2 linked regions of the Homo sapiens genome follow. The protein of the gene in region 1 purifies or fractionates together with the protein of each later gene. This does not show direct contact. Each region holds a gene or a part of one and is shown in the gene's direction. Other genes may lie near its edges. The genes, in order: DDR2 and CDH2.

Region 1 (11,192 bases):
GAAGTGGATTTGCTTTCCCTGACTTTCTCATTGTGAGCTGCTGCAGGAGGCAGGCAACAGTGGCACCTATGGGAAGGTGCAGATTATGTAGGACACTGGGAGTTAGCATCCACTCCTCTTCTCAGTGGGTCTATGAAACATCACTCACTGCAAAGCATCACTCACTGCCAAGCATCAAGACACTGAGGCCTCCAACAAGTTCTCCACCTCTCTCAAGGATCTCTTACACAGAAGGGCCATCCTTGCCAACAGACAGAGTGTGGCAGTTTCCTGGGGCGATTGATTTCAGGGGTCTTGTACATCAATAAACTCCCTACTGCTCTACTGGTTGGACCCAATACTCTACCTGGAATCTTATTATTTTGTGAAGTATTGATTTTATTAAAATGGAATTACCCATAAGAAAATGAATCCTGATGAACCTTTCCCCTTAATTTCTTAGTGTATGAAAGACTAGAGTGATGGTAGGTGGAATTGGAAGGGAGCAACAAATGAATGGGTAATATCTGTGAGAAAAGGGAGCAATCCAAGGGAGAGGAAAAGTGGTAGGGAGTTCTCAAAGTAAACTTTATAATAATTTCACAATTTTGCTCAGTGGTAGCTCAGCCTGAAGGTAATAAAATGAAACCAGATTATTTACTACTTCCTTGACATGCTCTTCCCCCTCATCCTCCCCATGTGTTTCTATGGCTCCTTGCTGGTCTGCAATGCCCATCCTGCTGCATTGCATAACCCACACTGGAGACCCTACTATCCCTCCTCCCTATTGCCATAACTTGATGTCCAAGCAAAGGGTGGCTAGCTTTGTTAGGCTGAGTTTGAAAGAGGGAAGGGAAATATGAAATGACTCATGCGGGAACAGAGAGTAGGAAGAGTTTTATTTCTCTTTATGCTTCTAAATCAGGATGGGAAGTGAAGGCTATGTGTGATCTGAAGGCCTCAGCTCACTGTCTTTCAGGGTCTCATGGTACTCCAGGGAAAGGGATCTGACCACAAATGGGTACTGTGGTGGCAGTGAAAACTGTGGCAAGAACCCAAAATGTTTATAAGGACAGCCTGCTCTCTCCCCTCAGTACAGGGCAGCTGCTTGCCTGTGAACCAGTAAACAGCTCTGTGGTTTCATGGTTGCTCCCTCTCTCCCCAACCCTCACCTCTCAAGGCTGGACTCAGAAGAAGGGGATGGAGCCTGGTGCCCTGAGATTCCAGTGGAACCTGATGACCTGAAGGAGTTTCTGCAGATTGACTTGCACACCCTCCATTTTATCACTCTGGTGGGGACCCAGGGGCGCCATGCAGGAGGTCATGGCATCGAGTTTGCCCCCATGTACAAGATCAATTACAGTCGGGATGGCACTCGCTGGATCTCTTGGCGGAACCGTCATGGGAAACAGGTAGGAAGAAGAGACATCCAGATCCTGGATGTCCAAGACCATATTTTGACTTAGGCTAGGAGAAGAAGGGTACAGGTTTTCTGTGTGGATATGTGTGTCCACAGACCAGGCATGCCCTTGTAAATGTGTGACCCAGGGTGAGGGAGGCAGGGAAGGAATATCAAGGCTGTGGGGAAAGCAGAGTAGATGCATTCTGCTCCTCGAATTAAGAAGAGAGAGTCCATCAAAAACGTGGTGGGGTGAAGAAAAGTGAGCATGATTTAATACCACCTCTTCACTCATTCTCTTCTCTCTCCTCAGGTGCTGGATGGAAATAGTAACCCCTATGACATTTTCCTAAAGGACTTGGAGCCGCCCATTGTAGCCAGATTTGTCCGGTTCATTCCAGTCACCGACCACTCCATGAATGTGTGTATGAGAGTGGAGCTTTACGGCTGTGTCTGGCTAGGTAGGTCACTAGCCCAGGAAGCCTATAGACTTTATTAAAAACTCCAACTTCTGGGAAATGAAGGCAATCAAATCAGAAAGGGATGGGATCAGTTACTCCTGGAATGGTGATGCCCTCTTGGGAAGAATAGAGACAGAAGCATTGCTCATTAACCCAGGGCTTAGGGCCCCACACTGAGTCATGCATTCAGAGTCATTACGTTGACTGCCATGGAGGGGCACTCCTCCAAAGTCTTCCCTCGGTGTCCAGATGGAGTCCTGCTGGACACGCTGTGCAAGCTTATACCCTTGAAACTCACATAGTTCCCTGAGGTAATGGGCCTGAGCAGTAGGCACTCACTTGGCTGTGTTTCCTTTGCAGATGGCTTGGTGTCTTACAATGCTCCAGCTGGGCAGCAGTTTGTACTCCCTGGAGGTTCCATCATTTATCTGAATGATTCTGTCTATGATGGAGCTGTTGGATACAGGTAAATCCTGGGAAACTTTATTAGAATGGGAAATTGGCCACTAAGAAAGAATAATATTTTATCATGTCTTGGGATCAATAATCAATCAACCAATCAGTATTTATTTAGTTCTTGTACAAGGCATTTGGAAATAATTTAGATGAAGGAATACACATGACCTTTATTTCCAGGGAACTTAAAGCCCGGTTTGGGAAGACAAGTTAATTACCCAGAAAACAATCAATTACACAAAGTAATGGCTAAAGTTTGTGATATGGCTCTAAGTATAATAGCCATATTTTTGACCCTCAAAACAGGACATGTAGTCTGACACAAATATTGACCTACTTATGGAAACAAAGGGCCAGAGAATTGAAGTAATAAGTATAATACTCTGGGCAAGTCAAGAAGTCAGAAAGAATAGACCTTATACATATAAATGCTTTGAAATTTGTAAAAAGGGGACTAGTAAGACTTACAATAGACAAGGAAAGTTCTAGGTTAAGATGAGAATTGTAGCAGAGGAAGGTAGGTAGAAGGTAGCAGAAGAAAGGAAGCAGGGCTGAAGGCAAGACTGACCTGGCTATAGTAGAAGCTGGAGTTGAGAAGAACAGAATGGAACAATGGATAAGCCTGAAGTGGATCAAAGGAGTGCCATGGCAAAGAAGTGTGACCAGATATAGTAGGAACTTAGGGTTGGGTACAGGATGCTCCCACCTATACTGTTTCACTTCAAGCCTTTAAGCCTTGCCATTCTTCTAGCCCACACTAACACTTTTCTCTCTAAGCTTGGTCTGCATCTGCAAAGTGAGCCTGGGAGAGAATTCAGTCCATCGTGAAGACCAGACCAGATGATGGAGGTTGACAGGGCTCGAGAGAAGGAGATACTAGTGAGTCTCAGGAAGGGAGTGTGGAATTACAGCCTTCTACTGGCTTAGGTGTGGAGAATGAACTATTGCCCTCTAGCTGCCATCCCCTGGGTGAAGACCTGATTCATCCACTCTTCTACTCCTAGTCACTTCCTTTCCATCTTCTTAATCACTGTTCTTTCCTTTTTGCTTAAACGGTCTTGGCATAATTTCGCTCAGTCACACCCCAACAGGCATGTATTCAAGGCACAGAGGAAATCAGAGATCAACCGAATTCAGTTTAATTTAATAAGCCTTTGTTAATCAACTGTTACTATATACAAGGAATTTGGCCAGGCATGTTAGGTATTCAAAGGTAATGGAGTCATTGATCCTACCTTTAAAGTGCTCACAATTTGGAGTAGGGGCTAAAACAGAATATAAGTTACTATGATTCAAGTATATGAGCAAGAGATAGCCTATGACTGCTCTGGGGTTCAAAGGAAAAAGTAAACTATAGTAGGAAAGCACAAAAATGGGGATGAAAACATCTGGATTTCATATAATAAAAGTTACTTCTGTTTGCTACAAGGCTTAAGGGATTAAAATGTGTGTGAAAAGCATTTCGTAAGATAAATTGCTATGCACATATAAGTTGTTATCTGATTATCATTTTTCTGACTGAAGGACCAGTAAAGATATGGTAGAACAGATGAAATCTGAACTGGGTCCCAAAGAATGGGTAGTACTTTCACAGGTGCAGAATCTTGAAATGGAATTTTAGGCAGAGGGAATAATAGCATGAGGAAAAAAGAATCATGGTTATAAAGTTTAGGGGACTGTCTGGGAGAAATCAACAGTTTATTTAACCACGGGCCATATTTATGTGGCAAAGTAGTGCAGGAGAAGCAAAACAAAGCAGATTATGCCATATTTTGAAGGAACCTGAAGTCAAAGCCAAAAGGAGCAAGAAGTGGAGGAGGAGGAAGAGGAGAAATTGCTGTTCTTATTCTTCATAAACATTATCATTAATGTAATGAGTCATTGAAGATTTTTAAAGCTGAGGAAGGACATGATTGGAGCTGTGCTTTAGACAGATTAATCAAGCAGCATGCAAAGGTTAGATTGGAATGGAATGAGGAGGCTATGAGGAACATTTTAAAACTCTTAGTTCTGCCAAGTAAAAAGAATTAATGACCAAGGCCATAACCGTGACTGTGGGGAATGAGGAAAAGATATTCATTTAGGATGTTTGAAATCTGATTGGATGTATGAGGCAAAACAGTAGGGTGAGAAAAAGGGTCAGATGAAGTTTGACAGTCTAAGTGACTGAAACAATGGGGATGACATTTATTTATTCGACAAATATATTTTGAGTGCTTACCTTGCGCCAAGCATTTTCCATTACTATGAAGAGAAGTATAATTTATGGAAAAGGGAAACCAAGGAGAAAGACTTAGTTCAGTAGGGGATGATGATGGATTTAGTTTGGAGTGTAGGTCTGTGAGACTGAGAAGACATTCAGTAGAGAAATAAGGAAGGTAGCCGGAATTATGGCTCTTAACTCCAGGGGAAAGATAAAAAAAATTACAAAAATGTAGACATCATTGGCTTTCATTTAATAATTGAAGTAATGAAATATCTGGTGGAGGTGGCTGAGTGAAGAGATCCTCTCAGCCACTGAGAGATGACATCAGAGTCTCAGGAAATAGTCATATTAGCAAAAGTTACTTTTTAAATTTAAAACAATTTCAAGAATAATATATGCTTACTGGTGATTTTAATAACTCTAAAGTATATAAATATTGAACATTTATTTTCTTATCCCTTCTTCACTTGATTTAATTTTGACCAAGGGGGAACTGAACAGGCATTCCTTTTAATTTCTGTTGCTTTTCATAAAACTTTCCTGGGATTTATTTTTCTGAGGATAATGGGAAATATATTTATTGCAAGTAAACTTACGTTCTCCTAGCTTTCTGATCTGTAGAGAGAAGAAAAAGATGGCAAAACCTTGGAAGGGAGATCCAGGCTCTGGTCACTGTGGATAAGGCCAGTCAAATTTTATAATTTACCAAACATTTTCAATGATTAAATATATTTTAAAAGGCTGGCATAATCACCCTTAGTATTTTTTTATTTTTTGCGATTCACAAATTTTACATATTATTGATCTAGCTCTAAACCTCAAGGGTCACACCAATTATTGCTTGAGGGTGAGTATCCCAATCTCGTCATTTGGGAAATTTGTGTCATATCTGCCAGAGCTTGAGATGCAGAGCTTGAGGAAAGAGAAGTTCCACATGATGGTTTTTGCTCTGTCCCTCCATAAAAAGAAGGAAGGAGCCTCTTCGTGTTCTCTAAGTAGTCAAATAAGCATACATGCAGTTATATTCCATCCAGCAGTCAGGCTTCTGGAAAACTCAGCCTTTAAAACAGAGCCTCTTACTCAGAAGTCAAAAAAGCCTGCTAAGCTAGAACACAAAACTAAATCCAATACCTGGGATTCTCATGAAATCCTTGCATCTTACTTCCTGGGTCTAGTATCCTACAAATTTAATTAGAATTAAATAGAAATTATTATTTAAATTTAGAGCTTGTATTTTCCCCCTTAGTTTAATATCAAACTGGGTTGTTGGATATGTGGAATAGAAGAGAGTGTGACTGGATTCTCTGAAATTGATTCACTGAACAATGACAATATGTAGTTAAAGGAGAGTCAGCACCAAGCTCTGGAAACATTTATATGATAGTGGGGCAAGTGCTACTATGTATGGTAGCATTCATTCTATGCATTTATCCATTTCCTCATTTACTCTATGAATTAGTTCATCAAATGCATTTGATAATATTAAGTCATTATGTGAAGACATATTCAGTATATAAGAATAGGCAAGGTGCAATAAATTATAGAAAGCTTTTCATATTAAATAAGACATTGTTTAAAAGTTTTACTACTAAAGGAGTAAGCATCAAATATTTTATAAAAATTACTAATATGAAATTCTTAGTTCTCCATTGATGCAAGATAAACGAGTCAATACTATAATGCAAATCTGATTATTTACAATCCTTCAATTCCAAGATAATAAGCTCATACAAAATCTGGAGTGAAGATGCCGGGTAAAAGCTCTTCCACGAATGTGTGGTTAACTCAGATTTCTCTCTCCTTTTCCTCCTCTTCTCCTGGCCTGAGCAGCATGACAGAAGGGCTAGGCCAATTGACCGATGGTGTGTCTGGCCTGGACGATTTCACCCAGACCCATGAATACCACGTGTGGCCCGGCTATGACTATGTGGGCTGGCGGAACGAGAGTGCCACCAATGGCTACATTGAGATCATGTTTGAATTTGACCGCATCAGGAATTTCACTACCATGAAGGTCAGTGGGGTCGGGTGTGGTGGAACTTCTTTAAGGAGGCACAAATCATAGTGTGGTAGAGAAAAGGCATGCTAGAAAAAAGTCTAGGCTGATGCCAGTTCAATGACATATTCTGTTACTAACTAGCTAAATGCATTTCACAAGTCACTTCATCTCTAAGGGCGTGATTCTCCATTTGTGTGTAAGGGAGTTAGAATAGGTCAGTGAGCTCTCTTTTTTTTGTTGTTTTGACACTAAAGGTGACATATCCATTAAGCCAATAACACAGTGTCCAGGGCCCACAGATTTTTAAGACGCATAAAAATGCTCTAATTTCTTTTAATATCAGGTGAAAAAAATAAATTTTTAGGGTCAAAGATTATCTTTTTACCAGCACAGTTGTGTGTGTGTGTGTGTGTGTGTATACACACACAACTATATATATATACACAATGATATATATATATACACAACTACATATATATAACCATATATACATATACAACTATATATATACATATACAACTATATATGTATATACATATACAACTATATATATGTATATACATATACAACTAGATATATGTATATACATATACAACTAGATATATGTATATACATATACAACTAGATATATGTATATACATATACAACTAGATATATATATGTAGTTGGTGTTCTGCAGTCTTCTGAATTTTTCCTTCTAGGAACCTCACAGTGGCAGTGATAGTTGGTCAGGCCTTATAAAACCTGGGCTGCAACCCTGGTTACCTGTATGCACTGTCTGCCCTTGGCCACCTCACTTCATGTTGCTGGACTGCAGTTTTCTCATCTGTTAAATGAGGACTGCACCAGCATCTTCTCAGCCCTTCCTTGCCTTGAACTCTCTCGAGTCTATAATCCTCTCAGCCGCAGTTGCCGTCTACCCTGATTCGTGTGTGTATCTATACACATAGATACATACACACATATGTGAGAATATGTGTATTCTCATTTAGAAATGAGATTTCTAAAAAAAAAAATGAAATTGTTTTAGATTGTACACTATTTTGGGTTTCTCACCTAGCCCTGTGAAAAGAAGAAGACTGGCTCTGAAATGTACCTAGGAGGAAGCAGGATGGCAGTCTTCCTCTTACCTCAGTTCAGAATAGCTCGAATCAGGGTAGACGGCAACTACTGAGTTGGCTGGCACTGTGTCTCCATGCACCTTAGCAGGGCCAACCTATCACTCACATGCCTCTTTCTCTACCAGGTCCACTGCAACAACATGTTTGCTAAAGGTGTGAAGATCTTTAAGGAGGTACAGTGCTACTTCCGCTCTGAAGCCAGTGAGTGGGAACCTAATGCCATTTCCTTCCCCCTTGTCCTGGATGACGTCAACCCCAGTGCTCGGTTTGTCACGGTGCCTCTCCACCACCGAATGGCCAGTGCCATCAAGTGTCAATACCATTTTGCAGATACCTGGATGATGTTCAGTGAGATCACCTTCCAATCAGGTAGGGAGCTCAGGTCCTCTTTGGGAAGTGGGAGCAAGGTGATGAAGGAGGAATGCACATGCCCAGAACTTCTCATTAGCAGGTCTCTGAGAGGAGTGGGATTGTACAGGCAGCTTCTCATTGACGGATACGGTGAATCCTTTGTGTGACTAGTTTTAACTGTGGAGGGGATGGGATGAGAATGGAAGTGAACAAAATATGCACGTAACTCTTCTTAGAAAGAATGTTTTTAAATGAGAGTACAGTGTGTTAAAAATTTTATATAATTTAAGGTAGTTAACGAGTGCGCTGTTAAGGAAAAGCACACCTAAGCATTACTGAGATATTTAAATGAAAATTTCTAAATATACACAAAAGTAAAGAGAACAATAAACCACTCATCACTCAGCTTTACTAATCATTGATATTTTGCCATATTTGTTTCACCCATTCCTTCCTTTTGGCTGTAGCATTTTAAAGCAAATATGAGATACTACTTGATTTCATTAGCAAATAATTGGACTGCATCTAAGAAAATAGCATCATTTTCATAGGTATAATGCCATGATAACATCTAACAACCTTTATTATTAAATAATTTCTTAATACCACCCAATATCCTGTCCATATTCAAGTATGACTAACTGTCCATCAATGTCTTAATTCAGTTGACTTTATCAAATAAGGATCAAAATAAGGATCTGTTGGTGAGTTTCTTTATTCTATTTGCTCTGTGTCTCTTTTAATCTAAAAAATTCCTTCCATTTTTATTTCTTTTTAAATGGATTCTGGCTTGGCTGATGGCTTTCTGTGGTGTCATTTTACTTGAGCTTCTGTTCTCTGTCATTCCTAATGACTGGTGCTTACATCTACAGGTTAATTTGATTCCAGTTCAATATTTATTTTTGTCAAGAATTCTTTATAAGCATTCTATATATCTCAGTAATGCTGTATATTTTATGCTGAACTTCATCATGGGGATGTAATGCTAGATCCTCTCACTTTTTGTGATACTAAGATTGATTTCTGGTTCCTCATGAACTTTTTCCCTAAGTTTTATCCTCCATCAATAACCACTGTCTGAATTATTTATTTCACTAGGGTTGCTAAATGACGATTTTCTAATTCTTTTATTTTTTCTGCATTTCTTAGCTGAATTTCTTCCGAATAGAGTAACTATTCTTCATCATGCACCAGTTTACTCAGAAATCACATTGAAAGAGCAGCATACGTGACTTATCTTCCCCTTTAATTGTTAATTTTCAGAGTAATGACTTGATACCGTAGCAACCCTCAATAATGTCTAATTAATTTTGGTTTTTACCCTTATTTTTTTGGTATCATTATAAACTCATTGCTTTTTATCAATTTAATGCTTAATCGATTGCAGTTATTATTATTAGTAGTAGTATGTTTATTTTTAGACAGAGTCTCGCTCTGTCACCCAGGCTGGAATGCAGTGGTGTGATCTTGGCTCACTGCAACCCCCGCCTCCCGGGATCGAGTGATTCTTCTGCCTCAGCCTCCCAAGTAGCTGGGATTACAGGTGCCTGCCACTGCGCCTGGCTAGTTTTTCTATGTTTAGTAGAGATAGGGTTTCGCCATGTTGGCCAGGCTGGTCTCGAACTCCTGACCTCAAGTGATCCGCCTGCCTTGGCCTCCCAAAGTGCTGGGATTACAGGCATGAGCCACCGTGTCTGGCCATTATTCTTTTTAATACTCAAGTTGTGCTGTCTTTGACTAGAGTTTGCATTTTTTTTTTTTTGAGACGGTATCTTGCTCTGTTGCCCAGGCTGGAGTACTATCTTGAGTCATTGCAACCTCCACCTCCCAGGTTCAAGTGATTCTCCTGCCTCAGCTTCCCAAATAGCTGGGATTACAGGTGCCTGCTACCACGCCCGGCTTTTTTTTTTTTTTTTTTTTTTTTTTTTTTTTTTGCATTTTTAGTAAAGACGGGGTTTCACCATGCTGGCCAGGCTGGTCTCGAACTCCCAACCTCAGGCGATCCAGCCGCCTAGGCCTCCCAAAGTGCTGGGATTACAGATGTGAGCCACTGCACCCAGCCTAGAGTTTGCATTTTTAAGGGGGCTCTTTGCTCTTTTGATCTGACCCTAGAAGCCTTTGATAACTTTCTTGTTTTCCGAAAGAACAAGGTATTTCAAGCTCATTTTGAACATGTACAGCACCCGACGTGGAATCAACCATTTCAAGAAATCTTGATTCCTTTTAGTAGGAAATGGTATTTAGAAAACACAAACTGGGTAGTAGGGATGCTCATTACTAATAGGTTGTCATTGTTTCTTGGATTTTTCGGTGGAAGAAAGCAATGAAATATGTATATTTAAAAAGAAAGATTGTGAGTTTACATTGTTACTTCCAATTCAAATTAAAGATAAGGTTTTTATTTAAAGTTGATTTTATACGTTCATCTCTATTATTTATGCTAAATATCATGTTTCCTAACAATGTTAACAGCATTTTCTTCATCCTATTATTCAAAAAGCAATACCAATATTATTACTAGCAACGTAACTATTGAACATTAAGATTTCTTAGCAATTCTCTTTTCTTTGTCCTGAGAATATATCCTACTAAGAATGTGCAGTCAAAGCACTATGTTCTAAGGTCAGTTGGGTAACAGTGGGATAATTCTTTTCTGTATATAGTTATATCACCAGTGTGGTATACAGTTAGGGTAACAGTGGGATAATTCTTTTCTGTATGTAGTTATGTCACCAATGTGATATACAGTTAGGTTCATTGTATTCCATTTGTTTCAACCTTTAGGGATTCCTTTTAAACTTTAAACACTACTTTTGATTGAACAGTAACTGCAGCAAATAGTGATTTAACTTACTACAGCCAGAAACTGTGCCAAATCTTGAAAAGTTAAAAGGTGTTTAGAACATTGTTCATACCATTAAATTTAAATGGGAAGATGAAAGATACAGAATGCTTTAAAAAAAAAAAAAAAAAAAGAAATGTCCAAAGCAATATGAACAATAAATGGTCAGGAGGAGAGAGGCACTAGCGTGGGTTTGTCATAGACAGCATCAAAGGAATGAGACTTGTACTGGGCCTGGAAGAAAAGTCCAGGTGTAAAATAACATAAAAGAGAGGAAGAGACTAATTTAAAGATAAACCACACTTTGGGAGGCCAAGGCAGGAGGATTGCTTGTATTCAAGAGTTTGAGACTAGCCTAGGCAACATGGCGAAATCCTG
Region 2 (11,192 bases), on another chromosome or scaffold:
TGTAGTTGATATATTCATGATATATCACATTCTGAAATTTTGATCACCATTGATAGCTATTAAGAATGATGCCTCACAGCTGCTATTTTCATGTCTACAGCTATTAGAATATTGGCAGATAGTGAACAAACCAGAAAAGCCATAGAAGAAAAATGTAATGAGTAGGCAAGAAGAAAGCCTGCATTTTAGAAAGCTCTTGCATTTGCATGGCTGTTTTTAAATGCTATTTCCGAGACGTTAAGAAATGTATTCTTCTGATCTTATGGTCAAAAAGGAACCAAACAAAACAGTTGCATGCTAGAAGCCAAGGGGATGTTCTTCAAGAATAATAAATGCGTAGCTATAATGGAAAAGCCTGTTAAAGTGAACATCCCTTCCTTTTAGCCACCCAGTAAAGAGATTTACTTCTTTGCCTCCCACTTAAGCACTCTTGATTTGTAAGTGAACCTAAATATTGACCTTACATAGAAAGATGTGCTAAAGTGCCAGTTGCCAATAATTATGCAGATGCGGGAGTAGAATAGAATGGGAATGGAAACTCTCAGAAGGAACATAGTGATCAAAAGCACCAACTTGAGTCTGCTGTCTGTGTTAGAGTCCCAGCTCTGCTCCTGATATCTGTGTGATCATGGCCAACTATTTAACCACTGTAAATTCTAGGTTTCTTATGCAGAAAGGGGCTGATAACAGTATGTTAGTCATAGTGTTCTGAGAGATAAATGAGCTTCATACACATTAAAGGACTTTGAACTGTGCATATACCCCTTAGCATAAATGTTACATCAGGGGAAGGTTTCGTGTGGCTAGTGAAATCACTCTAAATATTGCAGTCTTAACTTTCTGGCTTTTTTTCTGTCTTGCTTAAAATACTAGAGAAAGGAATGTTGAATTGGGGATTTAGAGAGAAAAAAAGATGTGTTTGAAGATTTTTAAAAGGTGGTCTAGGGTACGAAACTGGTGCAGTTTCTGCTGATAATGAAGCTTTCTTATGAGCGTCACCTCTCGATCATTCTTAGGCTACCAATTATGAGCCTAAGAGATCTTAATGCTCTTGTTTTTCCTGTTATTACTGCACAGTAATGCTTATTTGCACATCCATTCGCAGGTGAACAAGGAAAATTAAGAGTGAATGTCCAGTCTAGTCATTTGACTCCTGGTAATATTTCTAGTGACAGCAAGATTCAGTGAACTTTGGAAGTTAGTATTTACATGAAGGGTTATTTGTGCATTGCATTTATCTAGAGTGTTTTTCTTAAATTTGGGGGTTTTACAGACCAATAAAATATCCAGAAATATTCCAGAAGACAGCAGAGTTTTAGTTTGCTAAGAGGAAAAGAAAAATATCTTCCACCTACCAACAGTATTATTTTTAAAAGGTGTGTGTGCGATTATGTATACATGTTTGTACTGCAAAATGTGTACTTCAAATTATGAAAGGTACTTTTAAATCAAATAAGTTTAGCTGTATTTAAAAATTACATTTTCTGATTTTTGGTTTGTTTTCTTCAATTCATCATAGACTGGTGAAAGCTTTCCTGGGTGAGGAGTGATCTTTGTACTAATGTTTGAGAGTATACATTTAGACCATCATGTTCTCACTTGACTTTATATTATTTAGTATTTTTAGTCAACAATGCTATTCTTAAGAATAATCAAGTTTTTAGATGTACCTAAATAAATAAATCTGTGCAGTAATCATGTGCACTGTTTTGTGAACATAAATCTTTTAAGTACTCAAGATTTATAATTAGGTTAAATTGGGATAAATATTTTGATAAGTGACCATGCTAATGCATGTTTTCCAGAAACTTGAGAGGAACCTTGTTATGTAGTGAATGAAGAAATTAATTTTTTGGAAATGGAGTTGATAGAGGAATAAACTACAGAATGCAAGCATTCTTATTTCCTGCAAAAATATGGCTTCCCTTTTATTTTCCAGCCAATCGACTTTGAAACAAATAGGATGTTTGTCCTTACTGTTGCTGCAGAAAATCAAGTGCCATTAGCCAAGGGAATTCAGCACCCCCCTCAGTCAACTGCAACCGTGTCTGTTACAGTTATTGACGTAAATGAAAACCCTTATTTTGCCCCCAATCCTAAGATCATTCGCCAAGAAGAAGGGCTTCATGCCGGTACCATGTTGACAACATTCACTGCTCAGGACCCAGATCGATATATGCAGCAAAATATTAGGTATGAAATGCTGTTTGTAGTGTTTTTGTAGCTTACTTATGTTCTATGCTGTGCATAAAATTTATCTAATTCACTATTTGAGTAGAAATTTTCATTGCAATCAAAACTACTTATTAAAAGATAATTTAAAATTCTTTGAATTTTCTTCTCAGTAAGTCAATGACTATATTAGATATAAATAGATATCTGTATCCATATTAAAATGGATTTACTATTTGAAGAAAAAGCTGTTCTTGTTTCTCTGTATCTGCCATTTTTACTTAAAAAATACTTTAAAATTATTTAGCCTGTGCCTTTATGCCAAACATCACAAAAAGGTTCCGCAGGGAACTTTCAGAGGCTTATAACATTTATCTCTCCTCCATGCATCATGAAGGAAAGAAAGCTTATGCCAAAACCAGGATCTAAGAGTTAATTATTTTCATTCCTTACCTGTACAGTAGTTATTGGACTTATGAAACCTATCTGTAAAGATTTCCAAACTCAGCAAAATGTAATTTATCCTTTCTGATGAGGGAGTGGATGGTTGCCAGAGCACACCCCATGCGACTGTTCTCCAAAGCTGGTGATGATCATTTTTAAAATGAACTTATATTTCATTAAACTTCTTACAGAACTGCTGCTAAAAGATAACTTTCTATTGTTATCTTTTATTAAATGTTAAATGTTCTCCATTTCTCTATTCACTGAAATCAAGATAACTATTAATAAATAGCCAGTTAATAGATGTATTGAAATCCTACAACTTGTACCTTTCCAAACATAGCATACCTTTTCCAATCCAACTGGTTATCTAATCTTTAAAAGTTAATCCCCACTCCAAATTTTAAAAAGGAATTTAAGCTGATAAATCTGCCAATTCAGACTCAAGACTGTAGGACTTTCTTTGCAAAGGTATAGATCTGAGGCTTGGCCCAGTGTGAAAGATTCAAGTAGGAATGGGATTATGGTGGTCTCTCCAGTGTGGCTTCATGTTGGCCATGATAAAGTGTTAAAATGTTTTAGGAGTGTTCTGTGATGCAGTATTCAATTTCTATTATAATTTCTCTTAACTCCTGTACATTGAGACTACTGCTTATCTAGAAACTATATTCAAGCTATTTTACCTGAACCATTGATATCTGTTGAAGTGGACAAGAACCTAAAATGATAACTTTCCAATCTGCTTTAGCCCACATTAGGGAGACTGTGCACCTAGTCTTGTCCCTCAGACACCTGTAGAATGTTTCCTACATGCCTGACCAAACACAACCTTTATGTGCCTCCCAATACCACTGTCACAAAAATACTTTTTCCTGTTAAAGCTGTATGTCCAGCCATCATCTACAGAAATGCAAGTTAATGAGCCAGTTGCATTTGGAACTAAACCTGTAAAATATGTTTTTTTAAAGTTTCATAAAAAGAAATTAAACTTCACTTTCATTTTGTAGATACACTAAATTATCTGATCCTGCCAATTGGCTAAAAATAGATCCTGTGAATGGACAAATAACTACAATTGCTGTTTTGGACCGAGAATCACCAAATGTGAAAAACAATATATATAATGCTACTTTCCTTGCTTCTGACAATGGTATGTTCGCTGTTTTTTCTTGTATGTTGATGAAAGACAGTAGATCCTCATCATGCATGCTCAGGAATTAAAGTTTTCTACAAAACTCAATTGCCTGGAAAACTGACTTTTATAATTCCGAGGTCCAGCTTTTATTTATCATTTCAGACAGGTGTTCTGGAACATCCTTCACTGTCTTTGCAATGACTGTTCTCGATGTCCATCCATCGTTCATGTAGACATACCTTTGTTATCTTATTGTCCTGTCACATGTTGATGCCTTAAGTCCATCCTCAGTGGCCCTAGACACTGGGTTTTTTCAGTGGCTCTTTTTATATGTCTTCTAGTCACTCTGTTGCCTTTCATATGTGCATCTCTATCAGTCTTCCTTTTTATAATTCTCTGCCTCTGTCTGCCATGGGCTAGGAAACTTAATTTTGTGCATAAATTGAGATAAGTGAGTAGTGAGCTTCAGGGTATGGGTTTTAGAATACATATGTAGCACCTTTTTTTCCTTTCTGAGTCTCTGCTGGTTTCTCATTGGTTAAGATTAATAGATAAGGACTTTTTTCAGATATGTAATATAAAGGGGACTTTTGTAAACCTGATGAGGGGCTTATTTTGCTTCGTTAGCTCTCAGTACGATGTGTGTTTCAGACTTCAAGCTCTGGAGTTCTACAGGACCCCCAGGTGCAGACTCCGGCTTTCCCACTTTGAATCTGTGGGATTGCCATGAGGTTTTAAATATATCTGTTTCCTTTTTTTGTTAAATAGATACGTATCAGCACCTAACTCAGTGTTTTAACTAAAATGTAATGACTTCTACATATATATGAAGCATTTGAAACAGTGGCTGACACGAACTAACCACTCAACTAAGTATTCCTATTGCGTATTAATAGTTTCAAAACTGAACCACAACTATATTTTAAAATATTTTCAGTATTAAACTATGAATATGAATGTTGGTACTTAATAAAAAATAGCAGGCTTCAATTTGGTGGTTGAAGTTGGTGTTTGCAATTTTCAAATTGTAAAATATTTTGCATTACTAAAATAAGACATATCAATACTTTAAGAATAATGTCAGTGAACCTTTCTAAATCTGTATACTAAGATTTAATGAGATTACTATCTGTAGAAAATCTATGTAGTGACCAACCAAAGAAATATTTCTTATCCTTTTTAATATGGGACCTCTTGTTTAAATATTTAGTGTTGGAACTTTGTAGGAATAGCTTTTGCCATTGTACATCAAAGCATGTCATTAGTACCTGTTTTATGCTTTTTTGCCATAAACCGTGGCTTTCTTCTACAGTGGTACTGAAAGTAATGCATCTTGAATCATTATGTTAAGATCTAAAGAGCCATAAAATTATATGTATGTATGTATGTATGTATATTGGTTGTGAGTTACAACCAGATTTCTCATTCACCAGGAAGGATTGTTTTCTAATTGAAAGGGCTTTTGATAAGAGAGAGAAGTGACCTGTTATAATGTATGTAGCTGTGATGCTTTGCAATTGCACTTTCCTTTAAGCCACAAGGCTAGACTTGGAGCCCCAGCTCTGTTCGTTAATGATTAGTCAAGCTCTTATACTCTGTATGCCTTAGTTTCATTATTGATAAATTGTTTCACTACCTACATATTCTATATAGTTGTTATAAAAGTATAGTAATATTAAATGTGATAGTAAATTTCGAAGTCCCTCAAACTGTTGAGTATCATAGTGGTCATGGTGGTGTTGGAATATTGTAACAGCCACTATACCCTTCCAGTTCAACTCTCCCTGCTCTTAGAACCATCATATTCCTCATAGAAGTTGGTAAACATTCCTCCTTATTCCCTCCCCAGGATTGTGTATGTATGTGCACCTTCCTAGTTGCATGACCTTTGGCAGGTCGCTTAAGTCTCTGGTCTTCAGTGTACAGCATTATTTATAAAATATTCATAAACATATTATATATTTGTGTGTGTGTGAATATTTACAATGTAGCAGAAGCAAATCACCAGATTAAATTATCACACAAAGTGGTGGAGACAGCATTTTATTATAGTGGAATGAGAATGGGTTTGAGGTCAGGCCGACCAATATTTAGTAGCAACTCCACCACTTACAAGAGTGTGTGGCCATGAGCAGTTTACAGACTCAGGTTCATCTGTGTAAACCTGTGTCATAGGATTACAATCAAAGAGTGTACATAGAGCAGCCTAATATGATCTCAAGCAGGTAGTTGGTTGGTTAGTAAATATCATTTCTCTTCTGCATGATGTTCCTTCCTGAGTTGAGGTCTGTGGTTCTGTATCACTTGTCTGTAGACTGTTGCGTTAAGTCAAAGCTGTGTTAGAGCGTTAAAAGCATTCTTATGTTCTTTCATGCATATGTCTTGGTTCTCCATAAAAAGAATAGTGTCAACAGGATCACGAGCCCTGTGTTTGCATCTCCAACACTCCTCACAGTGCCTGGAGGAGCATGGTCTACGCAAGCCCTGAATAATGGGCAGGAGGGGCAGGGAGGGTACGGGATTCCATCACAGGGGCATTCTTCGTCACCTTGCTCAGCTCCTGCAGAGCAGCAGTGGCAGCTCAGGGTCATTCTAGCAGGGAAGCAAGAAGGGGCTTTGTTCTGGAAACGGTCTGCCCAGATGCCATAGCAACTATGTTTTTCCAAGGTTACACAGTTAAAAGGGCCAGAAGGTTAGAAGCTTTGAGAATTTCACCATAATTGAGGCTCATTGGAGAGAACTGTTCAGCATCATTTGTGATTTTTCTCTCTTTTCAGGAATTCCTCCTATGAGTGGAACAGGAACGCTGCAGATCTATTTACTTGATATTAATGACAATGCCCCTCAAGTGTTACCTCAAGAGGCAGAGACTTGCGAAACTCCAGACCCCAATTCAATTAATATTACAGCACTTGATTATGACATTGATCCAAATGCTGGACCATTTGCTTTTGATCTTCCTTTATCTCCAGTGACTATTAAGAGAAATTGGACCATCACTCGGCTTAATGGTAAGAACAGGTTAATTATTTGAATATATGTGCAGTTGAGAGATTTTGAAGCCTGGCATGAAAAGTTAATTTTATGTGCTTCATAATCTTCTCATTATACATATTTTAAAAGCTACTTAAAGTTTAAGTAAGATATTAAAGGCCTTTACGGCCAAAAAAGTATTTAGAATGCAGCATAGTTGTAATCCGCTTTATGTGTACTATTAGGTAGTAAATACATCCTGAACAATGCTATGTGTTTTTTTATCGCTTTAAGTATTACCTATCAAACTATGTTTTTCCTTTTTCATATAGGTGATTTTGCTCAGCTTAATTTAAAGATAAAATTTCTTGAAGCTGGTATCTATGAAGTTCCCATCATAATCACAGATTCGGGTAATCCTCCCAAATCAAATATTTCCATCCTGCGTGTGAAGGTTTGCCAGTGTGACTCCAACGGGGACTGCACAGATGTGGACAGGATTGTGGGTGCGGGGCTTGGCACCGGTGCCATCATTGCCATCCTGCTCTGCATCATCATCCTGCTTAGTGAGTACTTTTATTGTCTTTTAGATTTCAGTTCTCTTGGCTTCTAGGATGTTCAGCAAAGTCATGTGTTGCTATTGCCTGGCAAAGTAGTCTAACAACCCTTTGACCTTTCAGCATTTCCTCGCCAATCATATATGGGTCGACCAAGTCCACTTTAGAATGAAAAAACCCCAGAGCATTGTTTCAAGCACTTGATGTTTGCAACAAGCTGCCTCAGCATGCCTCTTCCTTGCCCTCTTACCCTTTCTCATGCTTATTGCTTAGGGAGCTGTAGTAAACGCTTTTCATAGAAAAACATTAAACAATCCCAAGTTTGAGCACTTTTCTTATGATTTGAGTATGAATTTATGGCACGTAGTTGATGATTTAGGAAAATAAGTATATTGCTTTCCTTCACCTTCCTTCATATAAAGCACAGTCAGCAACGTGCTCCAGTCATGCGAGGATCAAGGTATTTGTTTCTGAAGGGCTGTGTAGAAGAGTGAGAGATTGTACTTCACATACAGGACATTTGATAATAGAAATGATTACACAGCTCAGTAGATTGTCTGTCTTTAGAGTAAGTGTAGATTAAGGAATTGCTTCTTTTTAAGGTACTTTGCAATCTTTGGTTCAATGGAATGCAAAAAATTAACCACTGGAAAGTACTTTAGGAACCACTTCTAAGCATGCAGGTTAAAAGAATAAATTGCCTGGGCCCTGTGTTTTATTGTGAATAGCAGCAGGACTTAGTTTATTGTGCGATCATGCTATGCACCAATCACTTTCTTGAAAATGTTGGCCATTTCTTTTATGTTTTCTCCATTTACAAGTGTTCTGGTAATTTAGAATTCTGTCCCTTTATTCTAAGCAATTACTATAGAAGTCTAAGCATTTTTTACTTCCTGTGTGGAGACTACTTTGGCTATAATTTGAAACCTGCATGCTATACTAATAATCCACTTGCTAGATTTAGCCCTGGAACAATAGCAAATGAGATCATGTTATCTGGCTTTAAAAGGAGGATATTTACTTTTATGGCCAATAATAAAAATGTGCTCCAATAGGAGTCATTAAATCTTTTGCTTCAGGATGTAAACTGATACCCCCAGATTTTAGATAGAATTTGTTCCTAGATGTGCACCTAGGGATATGTTTCCATTTCAACTGAAATGTGGCATAGATGCCAATGTTATCAAGAAAGACTTAGGCATGATGGATTATGGCAATGAAGAAGTAACTGACATTTTGAAGGAAACTGAATTGGTGCTGATTTTAACATCAACTCACTGGAAAATTTATGGTTCTAGACCTGGCGCAAAGTGTAAAACATGAAAGTCTAATATTATTTCAGTGTTCAAAGGAATCCCCTAGCTTTCTTAGCTGAAACATGCACCGGCCTCTGGGAGTCAAAACCTCAAGATCTGATTCCTGACTTAGTTCCAATTTACTACCCAGGTCATCTGGGCAAGCTTTGTCCTCCTGGATAAGTGTTTTCTTCTGTGAATTTCGGAGTGTAATGATGACTGACCAACCGAAATAACACAGCAAGTAACACCTTACTGCTGTTTTGTGTCTCTAGAATTTACAAGGCCCTATGAAGGGCAACTATCCTCTAGCAAGCCAAAGGGAAGATAGAAAAAGTTACTGTCCCCATATATGGATGGTAAAACTGAGAACAAGGATGATCACCTCTCAAGTGAGTTTGCAGAGGGCACCAGGGATGGGAGCCCAGGCCTTCATACTCTAAACCCAGTGCTTTAGCTTGCTTTGTCTTGTCTCTCTTAATGTGAGGCCAGAAATAGATAGTAGAGTGAAAGACGCATTTCAGGCCTTCAGTTCATATAAGTATAAATTATTAGTACTGAATACTGTGACTAAATAGGCCAGGCTTTAAAAATGACAATATTATGTATTTTTACTATTTTTCTACCTAGTCCTTGTGCTGATGTTTGTGGTATGGATGAAACGCCGGGATAAAGAACGCCAGGCCAAACAACTTTTAATTGATCCAGAAGATGATGTAAGAGATAATATTTTAAAATATGATGAAGAAGGTGGAGGAGAAGAAGACCAGGTGAGCAGTGCTTTAAATCTTTAAAAATAAATTTTATGATCGTATAAATTTAATAGTGGGAAGTGTTAATACATCAGTAAGAAAATGGTATCAGGTTTCCCTCCTGTTATCAGTCATTTGGTAAATTGTTTCCTATGTGTGTTGAATATTTCTCAAATTTTTTTTCAAAGTACCAAATGTCATTGTATTTATTTTGTAAAAAAAAAAAAAACACCTTGTTTCAAAGGCTTTAAACCCAATTCTAGTTATATCTGTGTAATGATAAATATACTTTACAGTTTCTCTTCACTGGATATCCAAAATATATTAAAAGCATCTTCTACTTTGGGATCTGGATAATTATATGTATGGTAGAAAAACCACTAAGACTATTTATTCCCCAAGTATTTACCAAGGAAATCCAATATTTCAGGCACTATTTTAATCCCTGAAGATACCTCCATGGGCAGAGTTAACAAATATCTATCCTTAAGAGTCTTACATTCTTGTGAAATATTTGAAGTTAGAGTTAACATCTAGTTCATCTTTGTATTTATAGTGTCTGTCATAGTTCCTGGCTTGAGGTGGTTATTCAATAGATGTCAGAATCTCCTTCTGGCCATTAACTAATGTGAACCTATATCACTATGTGCGTATGGGATTGCATACCTCTTCAAGGATGAGAATGACCATAAATGGAAAACAAAAATCTCCATCTGCTCTGAAGCAACATTTTCAATGTTATCATAGCAAACATCTGTAAGCTCTATACTACATGTCAGGCATTCTGTTAAGTACATTAGGTGCTGCTCTCTCTTAAATCCTTGAAACTTGTGATACTAGTACTGTGAACATCTCCACTTTTGTGGTATAAAACCAAGTTAAGGATGGTTAGATTCTACAAAATCATGCACTTAGGAAGTAATAGATGCAGAGTTTGCATTCAGGTTTCTCTGAATTCACAGGCTAAACTATTCTGATACAGTTTCTCTTGAAATTATATGGGCGATATTAATGTAATCCATGAGAAATCACTATGACAGGTAATTCTTAGATACATTTGATAGTTATCTGATTTCTACTGGCTAATGCAAATGTCGGGGATAACAGTCTGAAAGAGAACCCAGGATTCTTTGGTTTTGCATCAGTATCAGTAAGTTAAAATGTACTCTCTTAAGTATATATGCAGATATTATTGATAAGCCTGCTAATTGAATAAAAGCAAATTTTCATGAACATATTTTTCCCTTGCTTCACTCCTTTGAGGAAATGATATATCACTTTTCATTTTACAAAGCACATTTACATCCATTATTGTATAAACTTTGTGGCAGCCCCTTAGAGTTTTCCATTTTACATTTGAAAAAAGTTGCATGATTTACTTTCAGAGTTTGTAACCCACAGAGCCAGGACTCAAGGCCTCATGTTCTGATTCCAGGTTCCATGCTTGGTTTACAATACCCCAGCTCTCTCATTTAGAAGAGATGCATATTTAAAGTACGTTGAAAACTTGACTCATGTGTAAAGCTGTTTTGAATACTGCCTAATTAAAGTGGCTCTATAAATATACCTTAGGGTGTTTTGCTTATAAATGTCTCTGAATATTAAAATTCATGTTTGGCTTAATTCTTTAATTAATCTATCCTTTCACTTTCCTAGGCTATTTTCAAGATCAACAAACATATTGATCACATTCTCTCATAAATCGTCTACTTCCAGTATTTTATTTTTTGTGTAATTTTGCATACTTTACAAAGGCATAAACCTAAAACCCAGCTCAATTAGGCTTCAGTAAAAGTAGTAATAACTGTAAGACCACCGGTAGTAACTGGATGCTGCCCAAAATTGGAGGCTCAGAGGCAAGAAC

Evidence for each region.
Region 2: the proteins of DDR2 (region 1) and CDH2 purify together in Homo sapiens (affinity purification with western blotting; 2 studies listed by BioGRID and IntAct, with this or other methods). This does not show direct contact.

Annotation. Positions count from the first base shown.
Region 1 is NC_000001.11:162,753,465-162,764,656, forward strand, and holds part of DDR2 (discoidin domain-containing receptor 2 precursor), read left to right. Parts: intron 1-1,159; coding exon 1,160-1,391; intron 1,392-1,691; coding exon 1,692-1,839; intron 1,840-2,199; coding exon 2,200-2,305; intron 2,306-6,331; coding exon 6,332-6,515; intron 6,516-7,746; coding exon 7,747-7,990; intron 7,991-11,192. UniProt on the Homo sapiens protein: Tyrosine kinase involved in the regulation of tissues remodeling. It functions as a cell surface receptor for fibrillar collagen and regulates cell differentiation, remodeling of the extracellular matrix, cell migration and cell proliferation.
Region 2 is NC_000018.10:27,981,098-27,992,289, reverse strand, and holds part of CDH2 (cadherin-2 isoform 1 preproprotein), read left to right. Parts: intron 1-1,939; coding exon 1,940-2,193; intron 2,194-3,623; coding exon 3,624-3,766; intron 3,767-6,528; coding exon 6,529-6,762; intron 6,763-7,056; coding exon 7,057-7,290; intron 7,291-9,206; coding exon 9,207-9,346; intron 9,347-11,192. UniProt on the Homo sapiens protein: Calcium-dependent cell adhesion protein; preferentially mediates homotypic cell-cell adhesion by dimerization with a CDH2 chain from another cell. Cadherins may thus contribute to the sorting of heterogeneous cell types.